7 linked regions of the Homo sapiens genome follow. The protein of the gene in region 5 purifies or fractionates together with the protein of the main gene of each other region. This does not show direct contact. Each region holds a gene or a part of one and is shown on either strand. Other genes may lie near its edges. The genes, in order: USO1, MPP1, EEA1, GCA, CEACAM16, OXSR1 and PSMG2.

Region 1 (3,500 bases), on a different chromosome or scaffold from region 5:
ATTTAATGTGCCTATGTTCCACGGCTTATGGAAAGCCTACATGTGGCTTGTGTATTAGCTAAATTTGTACTCCTTGTTTTGTTATTGTGATTAGATGTTGATCTTAAAAAGAAAACACAGGCCGGGTGTGGTGGCTCACGCCTGTAATCCCAGCACTTTGGGGGGGGCCAATGCGGGCAGATCACCTGAGGTCAGGAGTTTGAGACCAGCCTGGCCAACATGGCGAATCCTCGTCTCTACTAAAAGTACAAAAATTAGCTGAGCATGTTGGCAGGTGCCTGAAATCCCAGCTACTCAGGAGGCTGAGGCAGGAGAATCGCTTGAATCTGGGAGGTGGAGGCTGCAGTGAGCTGAGATCATGCCACTGCACTCCATCCAGCCTGGAACACAAAATTGAGACTCTCTCTCAAAAAAAAAAAGAAAAAGAAAGAAAGAAAACAAAAATATTTTCAATAAATTTTACTTTTATAGTACATGCATATGTATGCTTATCTTACATATTATCATTATTTGAAATAGTATTTTAAAAGCTTCATTTGTGGCTGGGTGCGGCAGCTCACACCTGTAATTCCAGCATTCCAGCACTTTGGGAGGCCAAGGCAGGTGGATCACGAGGTCAAGAGATGGAGACCATCCTGGCCAACGTGGTGAAACCCTGTCTGTACTAAAAATACAAAAATTAGCTGGGTGTGGTGGTGCACGCCTGTAGTCCCAGCTACTCAGTAGGTTGAGGCGGGAGAATTGCTTGAACCTGGGAGGCAGAGGTTGTGGTGAGCCGAGATCGCGCCACTGTACTCCAGTCTGGTGACAGAGCGAAACTCCATCTCAAAAAAACAAAACAAAACAAAAAAACCCAAAACAAAAAAAATTTTCATTTGTGCCATCTTAAATCATCAATATAGGAGTGAAAATGTTGTGAGATAAAATTACACATCATTAGCTTTCTTCATAAATCTAAGAATTTGAAAGATATATAAAATTTCCTAGAGTTCATTTCATATCATATGCAGTAAATAAAAGTTGCACCAAAAACAAACCTTTAACTCTTTGGTCTCTTGTAATAATGCTGACAGTCTTCCTTCTACATCAGTAGTTTTGGTGGCTATTATAGTCTCGGTCTCTCCTTGTACCTCAACTGATTTTGCCTGAAATTAGAAATTGGAAAAAAAGATGTCTCTTAAACATTACAATCAATATGAACTCCCAAAGGGTTATTTAATTTTTTTGCCATTTTGATATTTTACTTTCACTAACAGAAAATATAATTCCTTATGTATTTATGTGCAACAAAGTGCTCTCCACTGTCAGATGAGCTGTTCCCACATGGAAGAGCATCAAATCTCATAAGAGTACGAGGAAGGCTGGGCTAAGGTGCCTCAAGGTAGGTAAGCCCAGAAAAGTAATCAGCAAGGCAGCTCTAATGTAACTGTAACCCAGCATTTAATAAACACAGAATATTTTTCAAAGCCTTTCCTTCATAAATTTCCTATAAGTCCATACTACCACCCTAGATAGGTAGATAAATTGAGCCAAATATCATTATTAGTGAAATGCAAATCTTTTCTCAAGTGCTAGAGGAGACACTCCTGAATAACAGTTTTTCAGTCTTTCCTTGTCTTTTTTCTAAAATACTAGGAAGTCGGGTAGTGACACAACAAATATCTAAAAATGTGGAAGTAGCTTTGGAACTGTGTAATGAGTAGAGGCTGTAAGAGAGGTGCATGGTAGACAAAGCCTGCATTACCTTGATGAGACTGTTGCTAGAGATATGGACATTAAGTGATTCTGGTGAGAGCTCAGAAAGAAAAGAGCGGAGTTGGAAAGAAGCTTCATGGTCATAGTGAGAAGAAGAATGCTGGCAGAAATATGAATGTTAAAGGTGCTTTTGGTGAGGTCTCAGATGAAAACTAGGAACATGTTACTGGGAATCGGAGGAAAGGCAATCCTTGTTATAAAGTGGCAAATAACTTGGCCAAATAGTGTTGCAGTGTTTTGTGGACAGCAGAACTTGTAAATAATGAATTTGGATATTTTACTGAGGTTTCTAAGCAAAGTGTTGGAGTGCAGCCTGGTTTCTCCTTGTTGCTTAAAGTTAAATGTGAGAGAAGAGAGATAAATTGAAGAAGAAATTGCTAAGCAAAAAAGAATCAGAATTAGAAGATTTGGAAAATTCTCAGTCTACCTATATTGCAAAAGTATGAGAAGGAATGTTCTGGAGAAAACAACAACGGTTTCTGAATATTTTATGACAGCAGAAAAACTGCCAGCTTGGACTGAAGGGACAGAAATAGAATGTAATACCAGCAAAATAAACTATTAAGTAACTGAATAAACTAATCTGGTGAGACTGACTATAAAACGACTGTCACCATGAACATGAAGCCTATGTTACTAGAATACCGGCTAGTAAGTAATCTAAAGAGAAGGTGCTATCTGATGAATTTGTTTCTTTTTAATTGTGGCTAAGAAATAATACATCAACCTTGTCTTTATTACCTTCCAGAGAAAAAAGAGAAAATACTTACAAACGCTTCTGTTTTCTGTAACAGTTCCTGCTTTTCTGTCTGTAGTTTGGTGATCTCCACAGATTGTGAGTTTAACTGAGACTTTAAAGTTGCCAGTTCCTAAGAGACAAAAATAGTTGAGTCATAACATTAAATGGTATTAAATTCATCAAGGAAATATTTACAGGGAGACATTTAAAAAAATGATTTACAACCTCCTACTTTTAAAATCTAACTCTAAAGAACTATTCTTGAATTTTGGGTTCAAGATGGAAAATTCAACACATTCATTTACCTCTGCTCCCTCCTGAAATCCCATGCAAAAAAAAAAAATCATAAAAGACAGGAAGGGAGGGGAGAAGGAAGAAAGAAAGGAAGGATGGGAGGGAGAGAGGAAGAAACCTACAAAAACAAGAACAGTAAGAGAAGAGAGCAATATAATTGGGGAATTTTGAGAAAGCAAGTAACAGTGATAACTAAATCAGCACACCTGAGAAAGCTGAAAGCTAGGATGACCACTGAGAAAGTTAAGATAGTACCTGACTTACAATGAATGCATTAACTACCAGAAAGGTTAGGAACTGGTATCATTAGATACCACTGGAAGTACAGATAAAAATGAGGTTAAAAACTGCAGGCCTGGTTAAAAGACTATTTAAGAAATAGATCATCAGATCCCTGTCTCAATCTTAGGCATCAGGCAACCGTTCCTCCTTTCCTGGATGAAGACTTGAGGTTTATTATGTGGCTGGGCAAAACAGGACATCTTTAGACTAGGGACCACCAAACACAGATGAAAGCAGTAGTACTATAATGAAAACCAGGGTATTAATTGAAAGTTTTTATTAATGTTGAATTTCCAAACTTCTCACCTTCTCCTCCCCCAAAAAAAGTACAGGAAAAGAAAGGCAATTATAACAATGGCTCTCAGCAGGAGTGATTTCTCCCCATATCCCCCCATCCCCGAGGACATTTGGTAATGTCTGGAGACACTGA
Region 2 (3,500 bases), on a different chromosome or scaffold from region 5:
CCTGCTTTGAGGAGGAATTTGAGATAAGAATGAAAAGACAATTTTGGGGTTGGCCAATTCCCTAACTCCATGAGCAGCCTCTTGCATTGACTCTTCTGGCCCAGTGACTCATGGGGCAGAGAGTAACTGGTGGGCGACAATATGACGGGGGATTACCATGGGCTCTTCTGTGACCTTCTCAAACTGTATGAGTCGCACTTTCCGCACCTCCTGTCCCTTGACCTGGGCAGGGCTACCTGGGGCAGGAGACCCGTTGGTGTACATGTCCTCGGTCACAGTATTCAATGGATGCGATACAGCCTGCCAAGCCAAAACAACAAAGCAACGTATGAAATCAGGAGCAAGGCCCACAGCCAGTCCACAATCTGCAATTCTAACATTCAAGAGGCTCTGAAAACTTATTTCATAAGTTTGGCCTCATTCTTATTTGAATTGACATGAAGCTGTTTGTAAGCTTTATTTCTCCAACTTAATAGACATGTCAGCCAAGTGTGGTGGTGTGCACCTGTAGTCCCAGCTACAGTCCCAGGGCAACAGAGTGAGACCCTGTCTCTAAAAATAAATAAAATAGACATGTTTATCTAGGTTGCTGCAGAAATATTAATGTGCCTTGATTTACATGGTGCTCTCCTGGATCCTGCTTGGGGTATTACATAATATATAACAAAATTAGAAAGATTCTGAATCCTGCGGCACCTCAGGCTCCAAGGGTTTCTGGCATGTTCTCTTCTCCTTTGTATTTCCTTGAACAACCTGATGCTCTCGGTCACACAGCAATAAAGGTAATTCAGGTTAGCATCAGTTTCTCATGAATCACCCCTTAGGCTACAAAGAACTTCTACCTGTAGAATTAGGCACTTAGGACTGGGCCCCGAACCGCGGTGATAACAATAATACATTGCCACTGTGACTTCTTCCCCTGATCTCAAAGACAGCAAAGCTAAATGAGTTACTCTACCAGGCAGCAAGGCCTCTTTATTATAAATCTAAAGTAATTTAAGGCACTGTGGTAAGAAGAAAGACAAACGACCCATGTAATGGAACAGAGAGTGCAAAAACAGAGCCACACATTTATAGTCAGGTGACACTGCAGTGCAGCGGGGAAAAATGGTCTGCACGATAAATGTCATAAAAGGTCCCGAGTATAAAATGAAAACTAAAAAGACAAACACTTTAAAAGTAAGAAGTCTATTCATCAAAAAACTCCACTGAGATAAGCATAGATTTAGTAGACGAGACACGGAGCAATCATCATACAAGCAAACAACTGACTTCATCAAATTCAAACATCTTACATAAGAAACTAGACAGGTATGACACAGCCTGAGAATAAACATTTGCAATATTTACATCTGACAAAGGATTTGTATCCAGAACATATAAAGAACTCTTACAATTTAATAACAGGATGAAAAGAACCATAAACAAATCCTGAACTTGAGCCAATGATATGCATGCTGAAGCTTTCAGGGGTAAAGTGCTCTGATATCTGAAACTTATTTTGAAATACCAGGAAAAAGAAGGTGGATAGATGGGCAGTTTTTGGATAGAAATGTGATAAAGCAAACACAGCAACATGTTAACTGTAGAATCTAGGAGGTGTGGCTATATGGGTGTCACTATAAAATTCTTTCATCTTTTTGGCGCCATTCCAAGAGCAGCCAGTACTCTTTAAAAAATATTATAAAATTTAATTTTTGAACCATTTGAGAGTAATCTGAAGACTTCATTCTCCTTTACCCATAGATGTCTCTATATGTTAGGAACGAGCATTTTCAAAACTGAAAATTTAACATTGACACAATATTGTCATCTGCCAACCCTTTCAAGAATGTCCTTTATAGCTATATATTTCTTCCCCAGTCCAGAATCCAACCTAGGACTTTTTGGTCCCAGAATCCAATCTAAGACCAGAATCCAATCATGCATTTCACATTTCCTTACTCTTCCTTAATTTGGAAAATTTCCTCAGCCTTTCTTTTTCTTCTTTCATGACCTTGACATTCTTGAAGAGTACACACCTGTTATTTTGTAGATGTCTCTCAGTTTGGGGTTATCATCTGATGTTTTTTCAAGATTAGACTGGGATTTTGCATTTTTGGCAGGAATTCCAGGAAAGTAGTGGTGTGCCCTTTCCAGAACAACACTACTCTTAAAAGCCCAAACCTGAAAATAGCCCAAAAGTCCATCAACAGTAGAATGGATAAACTGAAGCATATCCAAGTGGATACCCTACATCAATGGCAATGAATGGCTACTGCTACACCACTCCATGGTAGATCACCTGTGGATCAGTCTCACAGGTGATCACTCTCTTCTCCTTAAAATGCTCCTTCTCAGTTTGCTTTGCTGTTCTTTCCTCATCTTACTGATCTGGGTAAGAGCAATCACAATGGGGAAAAACTATGGAAACCTCTGAAAATGCTCCCTGCCCACCCCAGATAAAATATTAAATCAAAAATGATATAGCCACCTGGAGGAGGAGGAGGAGGACGAGGAGGAGGAATAGGCCTGAAGTGGGCTTATGGAAGGGTCTGCTGAAAATAGGGGATAGCTGCATTCCAGTCACACCCAGAGGTGACCCTCAAAGACAGTAGGGAGGGAAGATCTTCCCAATAGGCAGAACTGTGAGGAGTGTGCCATTCACTGTGTGGGGAAGGAGAAGGGTCCCTAGATGGGAATAGATGGTATGCCTGAGCAGTGTCCACTGGCCTGCCCAAGGCCTAGAAAAGGACTAGAAGATGAGAGAGAAGGAAGTCTGGAGTAGAGGCTTACATCATTTCTAAGGGACTCTGATTTCTAAGTAGAAACTTTGATAAGATGGTGAGGTTTGGGCCAGGTGCAGTGGCTAACACCTGTAATCCCAGCACTTTGGGAGGCCAAGGTGGGGAGATCGCTTAAGCCCAGGAGTTTGAGACCAGCCTGGGCAACATGGTGAAACTCCTGCCTCTGTAAGAAATTTTAAAATTAGCTGAGTGTGGTGGTGCAAGCCTGTGGTCCCAGCTACTCAGGAGGCTGAGGCAGGGGGATTGCTTGAGCTCAGGAGTTGGAGGCAGCAGTGAGCCATGATCACACCACTACACTCCAACCTGGGCAACAGAGGAAGACCCTGTCTCAGAAAAACAAACAAACAAACAAACAAACAAAAAACATGGTGAGGTTTGAAGTAGTATTCGCTATCAGGTGACCTCAAATGAGGGAAGTACTGAGAAAGAGAAACTGCCTTCTCTAGCAACTAGAACTTCAAAAAACTCACATGACACCAAGTCATATGGCATTGCTGTTATAACAAAATTGTCTAAGATAGGCTTATATTTAAAAAATTGACTTATGATACCCGGGATACACCATGTAGGTAGGAAAAGGAGGTTCTGAGGGTGATCTTGAAGATTTATTGTTAAGCAAAAAATAATAATAATGTGATGAAGGGTATACTAGCTTCATCATAAACAGTGAAAGAATGATTATATTCATATTTGCTTAAAAATCCATAAACTGGC
Region 3 (3,500 bases), on a different chromosome or scaffold from region 5:
CTTGGCTGGGTGCAGTGGCTCATTCCTGTAATCCCAGCACTTTGGGAGGCCGAGACGGGCGGATCACCTGAGGTCGGGAGTTCGAGACCAGCCTGACCAACATGGAGAAACCCTGACTCTACTAAAAATACAAAATTAGCCGGGAGTGGTGGTGCATGCCTATAATCCCAGCGACTCAGGAGGCTGAGGTAGGAGAATCACTTGAACCCGGGAGGTGGAGATTGCAGTGAGCTGAGATTGCTCCATTGCACTCCAGCCTGAGCAACAAGACCGGAACTCCGTCTAAAAAAAAAAAAAAAATTATGTGGCATTCCTTTAGCATTTTGTTTTTAGATGAACTTTTCATTTTAACTATTCTTATTTTCTTCTGAATAGTTTCCTTTAAATAGCATTTTTTAAAAGAAGAAACAGACAAACTGCTTACCATCAATTAGAACTCAAAGTGTTTGAACATCATCAATAAGTCTCAGGATACTTTACGGAAATTTGGTTTCTGGTTCTCCTGCTTTTGTCCCTCCTCCTGCTCCTCCTTTTTCATTAGCTTACTAAGGTGTTTCTCTGAGGCTTGAAAGAAGCTGGAAAACAAAAACAAAAAAACCTCAAAACAAAACCAAAGTGAAGTAGCTCCAATATGTATGTATTGAATATTTTACTTAATAGTCCTTCAAAGAAAAACATGAATTTAAAGTACTTGATGGTTAGAAATTTAATCAACGTTTAGTACCTTAGGCAGCTTGTAAACCTTGTTGCCATTTCTTTCTTAAGTATTATAACTTACTGTGGGCTGGCTTAGTGGCTCATGCCTGTAATTCCATCACTTTGGGAAGCCGAGGCGTGCAGATCACTGAGATCAGGAGTTCGAGACCAGCTTGGTCAATGTGGTGAAACCCCGTCACTACCAAAAAATACAAAAATTAGCCGGGCATCGTGGTGCACGCCTGTAGTCCCAACTACTTGGGAGACTGAGGTGGGAGAATTGCTTGAACCTGGGAGGCAGAGGTTGCAGTGAGCCAAGATCGTGCCACTGCACTCCAGCAACAGAGTGAGACCCTGTGTTAAAAACAAAACAAAACAAAACAAAAAAACTGTGATTAGTGTTTTTTTTTTTTTTTTTGAGACATCTTTTGTGGGCCAACTGTGTGCTGTGCAGACAATGATGGGTAAAGTAGTCATGAATTTTTTGTGGAGTTTAGCGTCCAGTGGAAGAGAGAGGAATTGTTCAGAGATTCATACAACTATACTCTTGAATGAGTTCTAGGAAGGACAAACTCAGGATGCCCCAAGAACACCCAGCAAGAGGGCCCTGGTTTTAGATGTTGGGAAGGCTTCCCAGATTAGTTGCCCATCTAAGTTTGATGAAAGTATTGCTAATTTATTGAAGTGAATTTTAAAAAGTGACAGCTAATGGAATGATTTTCTTTTTGAGTAGTTTTTTTTTTTTTTTTTTTTTTTTTTAGCATGTTAGGAATAAAGAAGAGATTAAGATATTAAAGAACCAGGACTAGAACTAAGAATAAAGAAGACGTTAAGAAATGAAAAGAACCAGGGCTAGTACTCAATTTTCTTCTCTAATTCCAGTGGCCTTTTGCTTGAGCTAAAGAAATAATGTAATTTAGTAGTTAAGAACATGAACTCTGATGCCAGACTACCTGGGTTTGTATCCTGTTTCATTTACTATCTGTGTAGTTTTGGAGAAGTTACTTCTCTGTGTCTCAGTAAAATAGTTGTAATAATACTAGCCTCCTTATAAAGTTGAGAACTAGATAACTAATATGTATAAAAGTCTCAGCCAGGCGCGGTGGCTCATGCCTGTAATCCCAGCACTTTGGGAGGCTGAGGTGGGTGGATCACCTGAGGTCAGGAGTTTGAGACCAGCCTGGCCAACATAGTGAAACCCCGTCTCTACTAAAAATAGAAAAAATTAGCTGGGCGTGGTGGCGGGCACCTGTAATCCCAGCTATTAGGGAAGCTGAGGCAGGGGAACTGCTTGAACCTGGGAGGCTGAGATTGCAGTGAGCCGAGATTGTGCCATTGCACTCTCCAGCCTGGGCAACAAGCAAAACTCCATCCCAAAAAAAAAAAAAAAAAAAAAAAGTCTTAAATGTTAGCTGCTGCTAATGTTGGTGTTTTGTTGTTGTTTTTGGTGTTTAACTTTCTTTTCTTATTTTTTTCTTTTTTGAAACAGGGTCTTGCTCTGTCAGCCAGGATGGAGTGCAGTGACACAGTGACACCGTCACGTTCACTGCAGCCCCTGCCTCCTGGGCTCAAGTGGCCCTCCTGCCTCAGCCTCAGGAATAGCTGGGATTATAGGTGTGAACTACCACACCTGGCTGATTTTTTTAAAATGGTGTTTCAGTGTTATTATAATTATAAACTCCAAATTTCTTTAAGGAACACTTTTCTTATCACTTCCTTTATTTTTCTAATCTCCATTTTTTTTTTTTTTTTTTGTAGATGAGGTAGATGAGGACTTAGAACATAGGTACATTCATTTTATGTACTACCGAATATTTATTTTGTGCTAACTACTGTGCAAAACACTCTTGAGAGTAAAAAAAAAACCTGCTGAGTTTTAATGGAGGAGACAGATAAATAATTACAAAACAATGTGATAAGTGTAATAGATACACAGAGGAAAAGTTTGTAAGCACAAAAGAAAAAGTAACTATGTGGTGGAGAGGGGGTGTGGTAGGGGAGGGCAAGGAATAGAGATTGTGGAAGTCTTTGCAGAGGATGGCAGTGACTCAGGCAAGGAGGGAAAAAGGACAGAAGGGCATTTTAGAGATAGGAACCAGACAAATCCAAGAGCATGATATAGTTTAGTATAGAGTAGGGGGATTGTGCGTATTTCTGGATGTGGATGGGATGTTTGCAACAGGTAGCTTGAAGGGTTTTGGACCTTATACTGTAGACAGTAAGGAGCCACAGAAAATTTTTTTTTTTGTTTTGAGACGGAGTCTCGCTCTGTCGCCCAGGCTGGAGTGCAGTGGCGCAATCTCGGCTCACTACAAGCTCCGCCTCCCGGGTTCACGCCATTCTCCTGCCTCAGCCTCCCGAGTAGCTGGGACTACAGGCGCCCACCACCGTGCCTGGCTAATTTTTTTGTATTTTTAGTAGAGACAGGGTTTCACTGTGTTAGCCAGGATGGTCTCGATCTCCTGACCTCGTGATCTGCCTGCCTCAGCCTCCCAAAGTGCTGGGATTACAGGCGTGAGCCACCGCGCCCGGCCAGAGAATTTTAAAGTTATCAAATCTGTAATAAGGAAAAACCCTCCAAAAATATTTCTCCCAGGTAATCTTTATTTTATTTTATTTTATTTTATTTTATTTTATTTTTGAGGTGGAGTTTTGCTCTTGTTGGCCAGGCTGAAGTGTAATGGTGCAATCTCAGCTCACTGCAACCTCTGCCTCCCGGGTTCAAGCAATTCTCCTGCCTCAGCCTCCTGAGTAGCTGGGATTACAGGTGCCCGCCACCACTCCCAGCTAATTTTTTTTTTGTA
Region 4 (3,500 bases), on a different chromosome or scaffold from region 5:
AACCAAAACAAGCAAAATGAGGAGAAAAAACAATCTGGAAAAAACAAAGGTTATATAGGAAGAAAAAACTTTAAAAATATATTAATAGTCTCAGAGAGATAAGGGACAATATCACATTCATGAAAATAGAACAGAAGCTCTTGGATATTAATGAAAAGCAGAAATGAAAGACTCAATAGAAGGTTTAGGAAATAAAGTTGAGGAAAATTCCCAAAAAGTTCAGCAAAAAAAAATGATAGGAGGAAAAAGATGATAAAAGTAGAAAACCCAGTGAAAACAAAAAGCATTCCAAGAAACAGAAAATATCATTGAAGAAAACGTCCTACATCTAAAGCAAAGGAGTTTCCAGGCTGAGAATACCATCTGAGTTCCCCACACAACACAACTAGGTACTTTACCATCAAATCGCAGAATACTAAAGACAAAGATCTCACAAGTTTCCAGAGAGGAATAACAAATCACATCACATCCAGGCAGGAAAGAGAAAGATAATGCAACAAGGGACGCTAGAAACAATGGAGCAATACCTTTAAAATTCTACTTGAGAATCATTTGTAACCTAGAATTCTATACCTGGCCAATCAATTCTGAAGGTAGAATGAAAGCATTTTTAGATACATAAGCTCTCAAAAATTTATCTCCCATATATTCTTTTGTTTGTTTTTGAGATGATGTCTCACTCTGTCACCAGGCTGGAGTGCAGTGGCCCAATCTCAGCTCACTGGAACCTCTGCCTCCTGGGTTCAAGTAATTCTCCTGCCTCAGTCTCCCGAGTAGCTGGGACTACAGGTGCGTGCCACCACGCCCAGTTAATTTTTGTATTTTTAGTAGAGACGGGGTTTCACCATGGTGGCCAGGGTGCTCTCGATCTCTTAACCTCATGATTCGCCCACCTCAGCCTCCCAAAGTGCTGGGATTGCAGGCATGAGCCACGGCGCCTGGCCGTATTTTTTTTTTATATTAAGAAGCTGCTTAACTATACATTTCACTAAAATAAGATAATGAATTTTTTAAAAGAGGACAACAAGAGATGGAGTAAAAAGGAGATCTAACTCAAGAGAAACGGGGAAACCAGCTTCAGAATGATGGTGAAAGAATCCCAGTATGACAGCTACACATAAAAAACTGCATATCCCAGAGTTCTAGGATAATACCTGACAACTAGTGATTTCAAGAAAAGCAAAACATTATATAAAAAGGAAAAGTAATCATACATTATCATAAGATACAGCTATAAGCAGCATTCAGATAGTAAAAATAAGGTAAAGACTAACATACCTAACAAAAGTTACTATATATTATAACTACATTGGAAGGACAGGAGGATGGGAAATGTTCCTCTGTGGAGTGCAGAGACAGGGGAGAGTTTAAGGTTAAAATAAAGTGAAATCCTCATCTTTCATAGCAGGATATCAATAGATAATCATAAAATCCAAAAATCAATCGTGAAAAAAATATTCTATCTTGAAATCTGGAAGCAAATTTCAAAAGAATCAGATTTTTAAAAGTCAAAAGAAGTGTCCTCTATGAGCAGTTAATGTTAAGGAGACAGGAATACACAATGAACAGTTATTTTCATAACGAGTTTTACAGTTATTTGACTCCTTAAACTATGTGCATGTATAACTGTGATAATTTTTTAAACATTTTAATTACAGGGACAAAAAAAGTAAGAAAATAAACTTCCTATTATAATTTCAACAAAAGGGGAAAAAAGATCTCACGAGAGTAAGTTCCATTAATTCCAGACTGTGTCAAACATCTCTGAAGTTCTTCAGCATCCACTTCACCATCCTGTTTAAAAATAATTATGACCTAATTTAATGTGCAGTTGTATAAAAGCATATTAAAATGTCAATTGACTGTTCTAGGCCAATCAAGACATATGCATTCTTTGAAACATTACTCTATAATTAACTACAAAATTCTAGAGATAATTACTGACAACAAAGGCATATTACAAAATATCATACCACAGAAATAATTTCTTCCACTTCTGAAGAATAGCACAATTACCCTGTTCTATAATGGTTCAAGACAATCTCATAAGAGTCATTGTACTTCTATTTTAAACAGTTAGAAAAACAGTTAAACAGTTAGAAAAATGCCTAAAATGTGTTCAGAAAAGTCTCGAAAACATCCCCACTCATGCTGTTTTGGGAGGAGATTATTTATAAATAATACTGAAGCTTTAACTGGAAGGGGAAAATATATTTTCCCCCACCATTACCCCTAGCAAAATTCTAGAGTCCCCCTGTATCTTGCTGCTATTCTTCTGATTACTGCCCAAACAAGTCTTGCCTGAACTTACTACAGAAAATAAAGTTTTAAAATGCAAACAAGAAATCACAATGGAAATGAAATAGGTTGAGTATTCTCATTATGATTTAGTACCTCATCCTGTTTTTGACAAAAATAAGTAATTCCTTTGGAACCATCACAAACATTGGCACAAATGCAAAATGTAGCTATGATGAAGGATCAAGGAGGCAAATTTAAAACCTACTCTTCATAAGAGATCCAAGAAACAACAAAACAAAAAACTTTTCTAAACTACTTCTAAGAAATATTATTAACACTCACATTCTAATGGATTTTTGGCAAAAGAACCCCTTACAAAACTGCAGCTGTTCTAATAGAAATTACAAAATACTAAGCAGCATTCTTCCCTTAACTGAATTAGGTAGCATTAGCGGTAGAAAGCTGAATGTCCTAATTAAATTACAAGAGCATCAGGTAGAGAATTAACAAAAATCAATTGCCCTTCGTTAGGCAGCAAGATTTTAAAATGATATCCAACTTCAAGTCCTATTTGTTCAGTTACTCAATTTGAGTCTCCACTTACTTATCTATAATACAAAGGTAGCTGTGTCATGCCCACATCACAGTTGCTGTGTGGAAAAGTAGAAGCAGTGTGCATACAAAAGTTAAAGTTGTTGGTATTACTGTGATGCATGTGTCTGTATGTATGAAGACAGAAACCAGAATTTCCCCAAATTAATTGATGATTTAATCCTTACTGTTTAGAATACTTCATCCTATAAATAAGAACACTGCAGAAACCTTTAATCAGGTGTTTTTCATAGAGCATTATTAATTATGAGGCCCATCAAAAAAGGATATGGCTGTAGATGTAAGTTCAGTAGTTGGGTTCCAGGAGCAGTATACCTAAGTCAGATGTTGCACCTGATCCCTCAAAGCTAGGTAGAACTCAATATATGAAAAAATACAGTCTAAATATTTAGACTAAAAATTGAAAATGGGATAGTTAATTCATCCATACGAAACATTTATCAAATGTTTATATATTCCTAATATCTACCTGTCAAGTAGGGAAAATATGACCAGAACCCTGTCTTTATGGAGTTTATTTATTCAAAAGCACAAGACTGGGAAATTTAAGGAAAGTATCAAATAGTTCAAACATAGCGAATTTATTGCTGACAATTAAAATGCTGAAATAGTTCAGCAGTCAAAAAGAGTTTCCAAATATATGTCCA
Region 5 (3,500 bases):
GAAGGAGACGTGGTCTCTGCCTCTGGGAGCTCCCAGTCTGACGGAGGAAACATGGTCTATAACTCTGGGAGCTCTCAGTCTGATGGAGGAGACCTGGATCTTGACTCTGGGAGCTCCTAGTCTGATGGAGGAGGCATAGTTTCTGACTCTAGAAGCTCCCAGTTGATGGGGAGACACGGTTCCCAACATCTGAGAGCTCCCAGTCTGAGGGAGGTGACATGGTCTCCAACACTTGGGAATTCCCAATCCAATGGGGGAGACATTGTTCCTGACTTCTAAGAGCTCCCAGTCTGATGGGGAGACATGGTCCCCAACATCTGGGAACTTCCATTCTGTGAGGAGACACAACTTCCACACCTACAGGCCTCCATCCTAATGGAGCAATCATCCTTATTTCAGTTTGAAAGAGAAACTCCACCATCTGATGATAGAAACTTTGCCCTCACAATAATAGAAAGGAGGAGACATGATCCCCACTGCACAGGATCTCCCAGTCTGAATAGGGAGGCCTGATTCATCCTTATTCTCTGCCTGCAGTCTGATAGGAGAGGTAAACTCCTATAATTAACCCATTACCCCAATATGGACCCTATGTTTTAGGGTCCACCTGTCTGCAGGAAAAAGGATGCTCCACCATCAGACTATGCCTTCTCTTTTAAAACCTTCAGTGTGCTGTACCTCTTATTTGAGAGAGAAGGCATGGGGGTCCCCTTTAGCAACCCTCAGTCTGATGGAGGAGGCCTGTCTACCCACAGTGTAGGTCATTAGTTTGATAGAAGAGGCAGAACCCTATTTGGGGACCCCCAAGTTAGGCGGAGGAGACAAGGCTGCTTCCTTCAGCCTGATGGGGGATGGGTATCCATCTTTGGTCTATGTCCCCCCAGCCTGATGGAGGAAGCAAAGGCTCCTTTTGGGAGCCCTTGTCTAAAAAGGGGCACGCCTTGCCCCTTCCCACACACTCACGGGCCACCTGCAGCTCCACTTCCAGTGTCTCAGTCTTGCCCTGCACTGTGACAGTCTTGAGTGTGTAGCGGCCAGTGTCTGTGAGGTTCAGCTTCTGCACCAACAGCGAGCAGTTGGGGAAGCCCACCTCCCGGCCTGTGTGCGCGGGGCCTGCAATCCAGGTTCCTGACGGCAGCTGGCTGAGCAGCCGGTTGGGCTCGGAGGCAGGCCCGCGGTACCAGGCGTAGACCAGCAGGTCCTTGGGGTAGCCCTGCACGGTCAGTGTTACGTCCTGGCCCTCCGTTGGCTTGGTGGGCACGGGCACGATCATCGTGGCAACTGCTGCAGCTGGGGAGAGAGCGAGCGGGCTGGGTCAGTTTGGTCTGCATCTGGCATGGTGTCCCCTTCCCAACCCTTGCTGGCCTCCCCCCAGCTGGCTGGCACTCCCCATGTAGGGTGCTGGGAAGGAGACTGAGGAAGGAGGTGACTTGTGCGGTGGTGGAGGTGGATTCTGGGTCCCAGTAGTGTCTGCTGGGGTCTGTGTTTCCCCTATCAGACTACAAATTCCCAGACTTTGAGAGGTGTCTCTCCCATCAAACTGGAAGACCCTAGAGGCTTGGGTCATGTCTCCTCCATCAGATTGGAAATTCCCAAAATATAGGGGCCATGTCTCCCCTATCAGAGTGGAAATCCCAGAAAATGGGGACCATGTCTTCCCCATGAGATGGTTGGGACTTGTGTCTGTCAGACCGAGAGACCCCAGAATGTGTAAGCCATAGCTCCTCCATCAGATTGAAAGATTCTTGAGGGTGAGAGCATGTCTCCTCCATCAGATTGAAAATTCCTACAAGGCGGCAGCCCTGTTTCCTCCATCAGATTGAGAAATTCTAAATTGTTGCTGAGTTTTTCCAATCAAGTTGGGGACCCTGGAAGTTAGAGGGAAATGTCTATTCCATCAGACTGGAAATTCCTAGAAAGTGGGGTCCTGTACTCCTCCATCAGATTAGGAGTACCCCAAAGGTGGATACCCCATCAGACTAGGAATGCTCAAAAAACAGGGCCATGTCTCCTGGAGACCAAGTCTCCCCATCAGAAGGAAATTTCTCCCCAAGTGCAGACTGTGTCTCCTCCATCTGACTAGGAGCTCACTGAGGGTGGGTTGTCATATCTCCCTCATTACTGACATGAAGGATGAGGCATTGCCTCTTCTCTTTGAGCAGCTATTCCTTGAATAAAGGAGCCATGTTTCCCTGTCCCAGGATCATCTCTCCAAGGACAGAGGCCTTGTCTCCTCCATCAGATTAGTCTCCCAAGGTGGAGGGAGGGTGGCGTCTCCTTTTCTTCTGTGTCTCTCCCAGCACCTGCCACAGAGTTGCTGACAGTGCTAGAAGCCCTTGGGGGCACTGTATCCACTCCCTGCACATACCTGCATACCTTGGACACCCCCCTTCTTGGACTGCACAGACAGGGCTTGGGGTGGCGCCTGAGGTCATCTGGTCCATCCCCCTGTCTCCTGTCAAGACCAGCTGCCAAAGCCCCAGATGAGTGGAGCGGGAGTCACACTTACCTCTGGGGATGCCATTTCTGCTTTGGGTGAAAATCCACCCCTTGGATGAGACCCAGCCTGTTAGTGGGAGGGAGGGAACGACCATTCCCCACTGTCCCCCGGGGGCTGATGGCCACTTGGGAAGGAACCGAGGTAGAATTAATGAGGCCTTAATGTTCAAAGCCACCATCTCCGGAAGATGAGAAAATGTCGCCTGAGGATCCCAATGGCTCTGAAATGCCAGCTGCCTGCACTGCCCCAGCCCTCAGGTCATTTTAGGACAGAAGCAAGATGACAATGCCTCCCCAGCTGTTTCTCCATTTGCCAGCAATTGGCTGTGATTCTTCAGTTGTGTGTGTGTGTGTGTGTGTGTGTGTGTGTGTGTGTGTGTGTATACCCATCATCTGGGTCAGATAACTGGGTAGTCTAGTTGGCTGCACAGAATTTCAGCTGTCTGTGTGGTGGGGTGGGGGCGGGTAGAGGGTCAAGGCCCTAAACAGCTGGTGACTGAATTTAGAGCAGTGGCACCCACCTGAAGTGATATCTGAGTGATTTTCCACTCTGTCAACCCACAATGGTTTGCCATTTGTTCTCTAGGTGAACAGGACACGGGCTGTCTCTCTTTAGACCCAGATGCAAACAGATCTGCCTGATATGCCACTTTGTCACAGCTCATGAATGAACTGTGAATCTACCATGTTCCAATTCTCTGTTGGGCAAATGGTGGCTTAACCTTCGCAGCCTGATGAGGCCTCCATGGGGACTGGGGGGTGGTCAGGCTGGGGGTGACTCACCAGAGAGCTTGACCACGACTGAGGCAGATCCAGATAGCAGGGTCTTGGTGTTCTTCGCAATACATGTGTACGTCCCCTCCTGGGCGGCTGTCATGCTGCTGATGTTGAGGTGGTCTTGGCCGTTCTTTAGGGCCTGCCCGTTGAAGGTCCACACATACTCGGGCTCTGGGCAGGACCTGGACACGCACCACAGGGTGAGGGACGTGTTGAAGTCAACT
Region 6 (3,500 bases), on a different chromosome or scaffold from region 5:
TACATACAAACTTATACTTCTGCATGTATATACTACCTGAAATTTGCTTTTAGCTGTGTAAGTACATAGTTCAAATCAACTTCCAACCTAGACTTGATTATTAAGGGAGTCATTTAATTTTCTCTTTTCTCAGTATCCACCTTTCCACAGTACCGAAGAGTGCTATACATAGTCTGTGCTTAATACATTTCACAATAATTTTCTTAAAGTGTTATTCTTTATGTAGATTTAAAACAGCATGAAGTTGTCAAGACATCCTAGTAACTCAGAATTTTTGAGATGAGACCAGGTATACTAAGTAGGCTTCTGTAAAGGAAAGGTAACCAAATATGTTTTTCACATTTATGGCATAAATGCATTGCTCCTAGTGGCAAGGAGCAATGAGATTCTCCTTACCACATTCTCTTAAATAGCTCTTGCTGCCTCTATCTCCAATTAGGACCTTACAGAAAGATGACTAGGAATTTATATGTGCAAGGGGAATGAGTTAATGGTAATTCAGTGGAACTCTTTTTTAAAATGTTAGTAATAGTTTTAAAAGGCCTGAGTTGCCTCAAGTGATACTTTAATACTAATTTTTTTTCAAATGCATTTATGAGTAGAAAGAGACCTAACTAGAGCAATACAACAGCCATAGTGATTCTGACAAGAAAGCTCTGGAATTTGAATCCAGCTACTAGTGCTAGGGGCGGGGGGGGCGGGGCAGGGAGTTAAAATGAACAGACTGCTACCTATGGCACTTCCTGCTGAGCAATCTGTCAGGACCTCTCTATATGTTCCCACCAAGAACCACCAATTTAGGGTACTTGCTGCAAAACAGAAACAGACTACAAAAACATTTAGAAGTTTCCTTTTAACCTTCTAAAAACAAGGCCTTTATTTGATCTACCACAATCAAAAAGTGCTCCCCTCTTGGGTTAGTTGATCTCAGAGTTTACCTCGTCACAATTATAAGACTGATCTTCAGATAAGCCAGTTAGTGCTGCTCCCCTAAAAACTGTTCCTCAATTACAGGCTACACCTCCTAACCCAAACTAGCTACACTGTAAATACACAAACTCATCACCAATTAGCACAGAAACAACTGAGAGAACATGTGCATCAGTTAGTCACAACACCTGCTAACATGCAGGTCCTCACACTGTTGCTATTATTTCTGGGGAAAAATAATACACCACCAAGCAAACAGAGCTTGATGCTGGAGGACATACAATCCTATCCAGTTACTCTCAGGCACAGACTATTACAGCACATGCAGAATATTCAGAAAACAAAAGAAAACAAAACAAAAAATGTCTACTTACCTTAATCTTAGTACTAGACTGATTGGGATCTTGGTTTCTTGTGAACCTGATCCTGAAGACAAAGCCTAAAAAGCATTGAAAGGTATACAGTCATTGCCTGAAACATTAAGTGGGGAGGTGACTAATGGTCACTGGCAGAGGAATCATTTACTTGGCAGCAATTTTCTTCATCTCCAGCTGAGGTCATACTAATCCCCAGGACATTCCCTGCTGGAGGAGGACATGCACTCCAAGGCAGCAACAAAAGCTGAATGTCAGTTTAAGTCCAACACAATGAGAAAGAAAACTCTCAAGCCCAGATGAAATTTCACATATAGCCACATTTACATTTTATATTTCTGAGACCCCTGTTCCCCTCTACAAGACTGAAAAACACAAAGCTAGGTTTCTCATTTTTAAAAAATCTGCCAGTGCACCATATGGCAGTACAAAAGGTAGACCCTGAACCAGCTGCCCTTCAGAAATCCATCCAACCCATACATAGGTTCCAGTCTTTTTATGGCTAAACTAATCCTCTCTGAAAATTGTACAGCGCTTGCTTATGGGAGGACATGCATTCGATTTAAGTTGTTTATAAAATGAATCTAATTTTTCCATCAATTTTCCTAAGACAACTGTATCTTTTCCCATATGCCAAGCAGAAATGGAAAGCTTGAGGGATGCAAAGTTAAATGAAGTAAGTGCCATGACTAATTGGAAATGCTCAAAGCAGTGATCTCCAAAGGCAGAACACGAGATGATCTACTGGGGTGCAAAAGAAAAAAAAAAAAATCAGACCTTTAATTTATATTTCTTTTCATCTAAAACGTTAGACAAGAAAATGGAACTTCTAATATTTAATAAATGGACGTTGAAAGTCTTACTTTAACCATGTACCATAGGGCCACATGTTGTATGCAGTGTCTGAGGTTTATTGAAGGGAGAGAAGGAGTTACACAGCATGTAGCAGCCCACTACGGGGCCTTCATTCACTTGGCTGCTCTCAATGAAGTATGATTTAATAAAGTTTGTGTGCACCTGGATAAATGATTTACAGATTATAATACCCGGACTTAACAAACCAACCCTCACAAAATTGACAAATAACTTAAAAAGAGTAATAGAGAAAAACCACAGAAAACAAAGAGTATTAATAAAAAGTATAAGCCTGAGTGAACAACAACAACAAAAACAGTACAGCCATCGATTCTCCTAGTCTCTGTTGAACTTCATGAGCTGCATTCTGAAGTTAAATGTAATTATCTAATACAAAGCTGACAAGAAATTAGCCCAAAATTTTTGATGTTTGAAATATTTCCATCATTAACTTATTCTGTTGCTTAAAAACCTGCATGTGATCCTTGTAAAATTCTCTTACCTGTACATGCTTAAAAATGTGAAGACAGAATTTCTAACTTGTTTCAAAATCTACCAAGACATTAACCTGATTACATTAGGTTATATTCCACGTTAATATCTGCTCTTTTCATCTATCCAAAGGAGTGACCATGAAACCATATCCCCGGCTTTACCTGAGCTGTTTTTGCTGGCTCTGCGGTGGGTGGGAGAGAGACTTGAGTTGGCTGTGTAGCAATCTGCCCAGCTGGCTGAGGTAGATGAGCAGAGATCTGTTCTGGAACTTGGAGCAAAGTACCCACAGGATCAGTTGTTGGAAAGAGCTGTAACAAAAACACACACAGTGTTGCTTAAGTTGTGTGGAAAGGGAGGCAGGTCTGCTGACAGCAAGTTCAGCCTTTCAGGGTGATATTTTCAAAGTAGTTTTTGGGTAGTGTACAGGTTTTGTGTCTACTCCGAATATATCTATTCCAAACGGAAGTCAAATATTTCTAGGCTTTTAAACTTTTAACAACTCTGTGAGGTATAATTTATATTTCTCTACATTTACCCACTGTAACTGTACAATTTGGCGATTTTTGTACCATATATAGAATTGTGCAACCATCACCACAATCGTTTTAGAACACTTCCATCACCCCCAAAAAGTCCTCTCATGCCTATAGTTAGTTCCTGCTTCCACACCCAGCCATAGGCAACAACTGATCCTAATTTCTATAAATTTGCTTTTCTGGATATTTCATATAAATGGAATCATATAATATATAGTCTTTTGTGTCTGTCTTCAGTTTGCATTATATTTATCTTTAACAAAATCTATTCCATTCCTTTGCCCAGCAAAACAGCACCTCCAAAATACAG
Region 7 (3,500 bases), on a different chromosome or scaffold from region 5:
AAATGGAATAAACCTCTAATATTAATATGCTTACATTTTTTCACCAATGCTACCCGAACTGAAAATATGTTAACACTCAAGATAAAAGCCCTGCTTCCTTTCTATATAATCATGAAAAGACAGTAACACATCTGAAATATTGTAAGATTATTTCTCTGTAGAATCAGATCTTAACTGTACATATGGTAAAAACAGTAGTAATTTTTGAATCTTAATCCCTAATGTTACTTATTTTCTCATTACACTTTAATAAACAAAAAGGCAAACTACAACATACTAACCTTAATAAAAATGGATCTTAACTGTAGAGCCACCAGCTTTCTTGAAGGCAATGAATACACTATAAAAACAAGAAGAAAATGAAATCATATGACAGTGAAGTTATACAAGTTGAAATTATTATGATAAACAAAAATTGAATTATAATACCTTTTGCATTTAAATGTTTTCAATAATTAAAATACGGAACATATATGACATCTGGTTAAAATAAGACCTTTTAGAAGTACCTTAAAATAAGCCAGTGGGCTTTATTCTATGGAACAGATTCATTTCTGAAAAGTTAACTGTAAGAAAATATAAAAAATTATTTTTCTTTTGACTTTAACTGCAAAACCAGAGAAGTATTCCCCTGAAAATTTCTGGTATTATGACAAATAAAATCATCCTTAAGAAAACTGAACTTTTTGGCTTTTGATATTCTCCCCTCTTTGTCTCCAGAGAACAGCAACACTCATTGGGATTAACAGAAAAAACAGTAAAAGGTAGGAGAATGTTAGCCATGTAATAAAATCCTGAAATAGGTACATGTGTGTTCCTTAGAACTTTTTAAAGGATCTGAAATAACATAAAATGTCATGTGAGTCAATGTGTTTGTATTTTTTACTGGGAAAAGGATCCATAGCTTTCATCAGGTTCTACAAGGGGCACACTCTAGAAATGCTTAAGGCTTCCCTGCCCAACTTCATTTCTAAGAATGAGAAGCAGCTGGGCATGGTGGCTCACGCCTGTAATCCCAGCACCTTGGGAGGCTGAGGCAGGTGGATCACAAGGTCAGGAGATCAAGATCATCCTAGCTAACATGGTGAATGAAACCCCGTCTCTACTAAAAAATAAAAAAATTAGCCAGGCTTGGCGGCGGGCACCTGTAGTCCTAGCTACTCAGGAGGCTGAGGCAGGAGAACGGCGTGAACCCGGGGGGCGGAGCTTGCAGTGAGCAGAGATCGCGCCACTGCACTCCAGCTTGGGCAACAGAACAAGACTCCATCTCAAAAAAAAAAAAAAAAAAAAAGAATGAGAAGCTCCTGAGTCAGGGATAAAATACTCTCTAAGGACACAGGATTACTACTGTGCTAAGGGGTAAGTGTTGGTTACCATAAACAGATTGCAAATAACAGCAAATCCTTTGGTGGATCAGGTCTCTACTGTTACAGGTCTTTCGGAAATTGTCTCCTATGGCTGGCGTGATGTGGTGTGACTGGGGGGTATGCTGAACTCAGCAAATCTAGCAAGCACCAGGTATGTTCAGTCCAAAGGAAGTTTAGGAATTAGGGAAAAGGGTATAAATTTAGGGAAAAGAGACTAAGGCAAAGATTACTCAGCCTCTAACCTATCTGTGACAAACACATGTAGTCCAATTCAACTGACCTAGGTTTGAAAAGAATGTATCTGTAGGGGGTGGACAGGCTAAGCTTTTTAAAATGTAAGCTACCACTTCTTCGGTGATAGCAATACTCTCCTCATCAGCGTATCATACAATTCTTTTTTTTTGAGACAGAGTCTCGCTCTGTCACCCAGGCTGAAGTGCAGTGGTGCGATATCGGCTCACTCCAACTTCTGCCTCCCAGGTTCAAGTGATTCTTGTGTGTCAGCCTCTCAAGTAGCTGGGATTACAGGAGCACACCACCACGCCTGGCTAATTTTTGTTTTTTGTTTGTTTTTTAAGACAGAGTCTTGCTCTATCACCCAGACTGGAGTACAATGGTGTGATCTCGGGTCACTGCAACCTCTACCTCCTGGGTTCAAGCGATTCTCCTGTCTCAGCCTCCTGAGTAGCTGGGATTTCAGATGCACACCGTCACAACGGGTTAATTTTTTGTATTTTAGTAGAGACAGAGTTTCATCATGTTACCCAGGCTGGTCTCGAACTCCTGAGCTCAGGCAATCCACCCGTCTTGGCCTCCCAAAGCGCTAGGATTACTAGCATGGGCCACCGTGCCCGGCCTATGCAATTCTTTTTGTTGTTAGGTTCCTGTTTCCTAGTACTTTTTTCTTCTGATGTGATACATTACGAAAGCAACAACACCTTTTCTGTATTCTGCCCCAAAACATTAACCTTTTATCTAATCAAGCCTTTAGAGCTAACTCCAGTTACAGAAAACACAGGGGCTAGAACAACAAGCCAAGTGACAAGAGGACGTAATCAGACAAATCAGAAGGTGGGACATTGTACAAAACAATACACCTAGTCTTTTCTTCAATAAATCGGTTTGTGATGAAAAAAAAGGGACTGCTCTAGAGTAAAAGAGATTTCAAGGGCACAGCACAACAATCGGATATATGAGGGGTCTTCAAAAAGTTCACAGGAAATGTGTACTTACGAAAACATTTTGCACCAAAATAAACTTGTACTGACTTGCTGTAACACGCCTGAAAAGGATCTGGTTTGAGGCACTAAGAAGGATAAGGCATTAAGTGCCCCTATCACAGCAACATGAATTCTGCTTAAACTGAAGCAAGAACATCAAATTTATGGTGAAGCTTGGGTAGATAAATGGTGAAATCACAGATGCTTTAAAAGGGGCGGGCGTGGTGGCTCACACCTGTAATCCCAGCACTTTGGGAAGCTGAGGCGGGCAGATCATGAGGTCAGCAGATGGAGACCATCCTGGCTAACACAGTGAAACCCCGTCTTACTAAAAATACAAAAAAAGTAGCCGGGCGTGATGGCGGGTGTCTGTAGTCCCAGCTACTTGGGAGGCTGAGGCGGAAGAATGGCGTGAACCCGGGAGGCAGAGCTTGCAGTGAGCCGAGATCGTGCCACCGCACTCCAGACTGGGCGACAGAGCAAGACTCCATCTCAAAAAAAAAAAAAAAAGTTTATGAGGGCTGGGCGTGGTGGCTCATACCTGTAATTCCGGCACTTTGGGAGGCTGAGGCGGGTGAACTGCCTGAGGTCAGGAGTTCAAGACCCACCTGGCCAACATGGTGAAACCCTGTCTCTACTAAAAATACAAAAATTAGGCCAGGCGTGGTGGCTCACGCCTGTAATCCCAGCACTCTGGAAGGCCAAGGTGGTTGGATCACCTGAGGTCAGGAGTTCAACACCAGCCTGACTTGCATGGTGAAACCTCATCTCTACTAAAAATACAAAATATTAGCTGGGCGTGGGGGCGTGGACCTGTAATCCCAACTACTCCAGAGGCTGAGGCAAGAGAATTGCTTGAACCCGGGAGGTGGAGGTTGCAGTGAACCAAAATCGTGGCATTGCACTACAGCCT

The links.
Region 1: the proteins of CEACAM16 (region 5) and USO1 purify together in Homo sapiens (affinity purification with mass spectrometry; one large-scale study listed by BioGRID and IntAct). This does not show direct contact.
Region 2: the proteins of CEACAM16 (region 5) and MPP1 purify together in Homo sapiens (affinity purification with mass spectrometry; one large-scale study listed by BioGRID and IntAct). This does not show direct contact.
Region 3: the proteins of CEACAM16 (region 5) and EEA1 purify together in Homo sapiens (affinity purification with mass spectrometry; one large-scale study listed by BioGRID and IntAct). This does not show direct contact.
Region 4: the proteins of CEACAM16 (region 5) and GCA purify together in Homo sapiens (affinity purification with mass spectrometry; one large-scale study listed by BioGRID and IntAct). This does not show direct contact.
Region 6: the proteins of CEACAM16 (region 5) and OXSR1 purify together in Homo sapiens (affinity purification with mass spectrometry; one large-scale study listed by BioGRID and IntAct). This does not show direct contact.
Region 7: the proteins of CEACAM16 (region 5) and PSMG2 purify together in Homo sapiens (affinity purification with mass spectrometry; one large-scale study listed by BioGRID and IntAct). This does not show direct contact.

The regions. Positions count from the first base shown.
Region 1 is NC_000004.12:75,808,077-75,811,576, reverse strand, and holds part of USO1 (general vesicular transport factor p115), read right to left. Parts: intron 2,625-3,500; coding exon 2,526-2,624; intron 1,146-2,525; coding exon 1,038-1,145; intron 1-1,037. UniProt on the Homo sapiens protein: General vesicular transport factor required for intercisternal transport in the Golgi stack; it is required for transcytotic fusion and/or subsequent binding of the vesicles to the target membrane.
Region 2 is NC_000023.11:154,791,986-154,795,485, forward strand, and holds part of MPP1 (55 kDa erythrocyte membrane protein), read right to left. Parts: intron 301-3,500; coding exon 157-300; intron 1-156. UniProt on the Homo sapiens protein: Essential regulator of neutrophil polarity. Regulates neutrophil polarization by regulating AKT1 phosphorylation through a mechanism that is independent of PIK3CG activity.
Region 3 is NC_000012.12:92,922,796-92,926,295, reverse strand, and holds part of EEA1 (early endosome antigen 1), read left to right. Parts: intron 1-3,500. UniProt on the Homo sapiens protein: Binds phospholipid vesicles containing phosphatidylinositol 3-phosphate and participates in endosomal trafficking.
Region 4 is NC_000002.12:162,350,632-162,354,131, reverse strand, and holds part of GCA (grancalcin), read right to left. Parts: intron 1,795-3,500; coding exon 1,725-1,794; intron 721-1,724; exon of another isoform or gene 399-720; intron 1-398. UniProt on the Homo sapiens protein: Calcium-binding protein that may play a role in the adhesion of neutrophils to fibronectin. May play a role in the formation of focal adhesions.
Region 5 is NC_000019.10:44,705,651-44,709,150, reverse strand, and holds part of CEACAM16 (cell adhesion molecule CEACAM16 precursor), read right to left. Parts: coding exon 3,283-3,500; intron 1,291-3,282; coding exon 964-1,290; coding exon of another isoform or gene 809-963; intron 1-808. UniProt on the Homo sapiens protein: Required for proper hearing, plays a role in maintaining the integrity of the tectorial membrane.
Region 6 is NC_000003.12:38,245,537-38,249,036, reverse strand, and holds part of OXSR1 (serine/threonine-protein kinase OSR1), read right to left. Parts: intron 2,963-3,500; coding exon 2,816-2,962; intron 1,370-2,815; coding exon 1,305-1,369; intron 1-1,304. UniProt on the Homo sapiens protein: Effector serine/threonine-protein kinase component of the WNK-SPAK/OSR1 kinase cascade, which is involved in various processes, such as ion transport, response to hypertonic stress and blood pressure.
Region 7 is NC_000018.10:12,709,542-12,713,041, reverse strand, and holds part of PSMG2 (proteasome assembly chaperone 2), read right to left. Parts: intron 341-3,500; coding exon 282-340; intron 1-281. UniProt on the Homo sapiens protein: Chaperone protein which promotes assembly of the 20S proteasome as part of a heterodimer with PSMG1.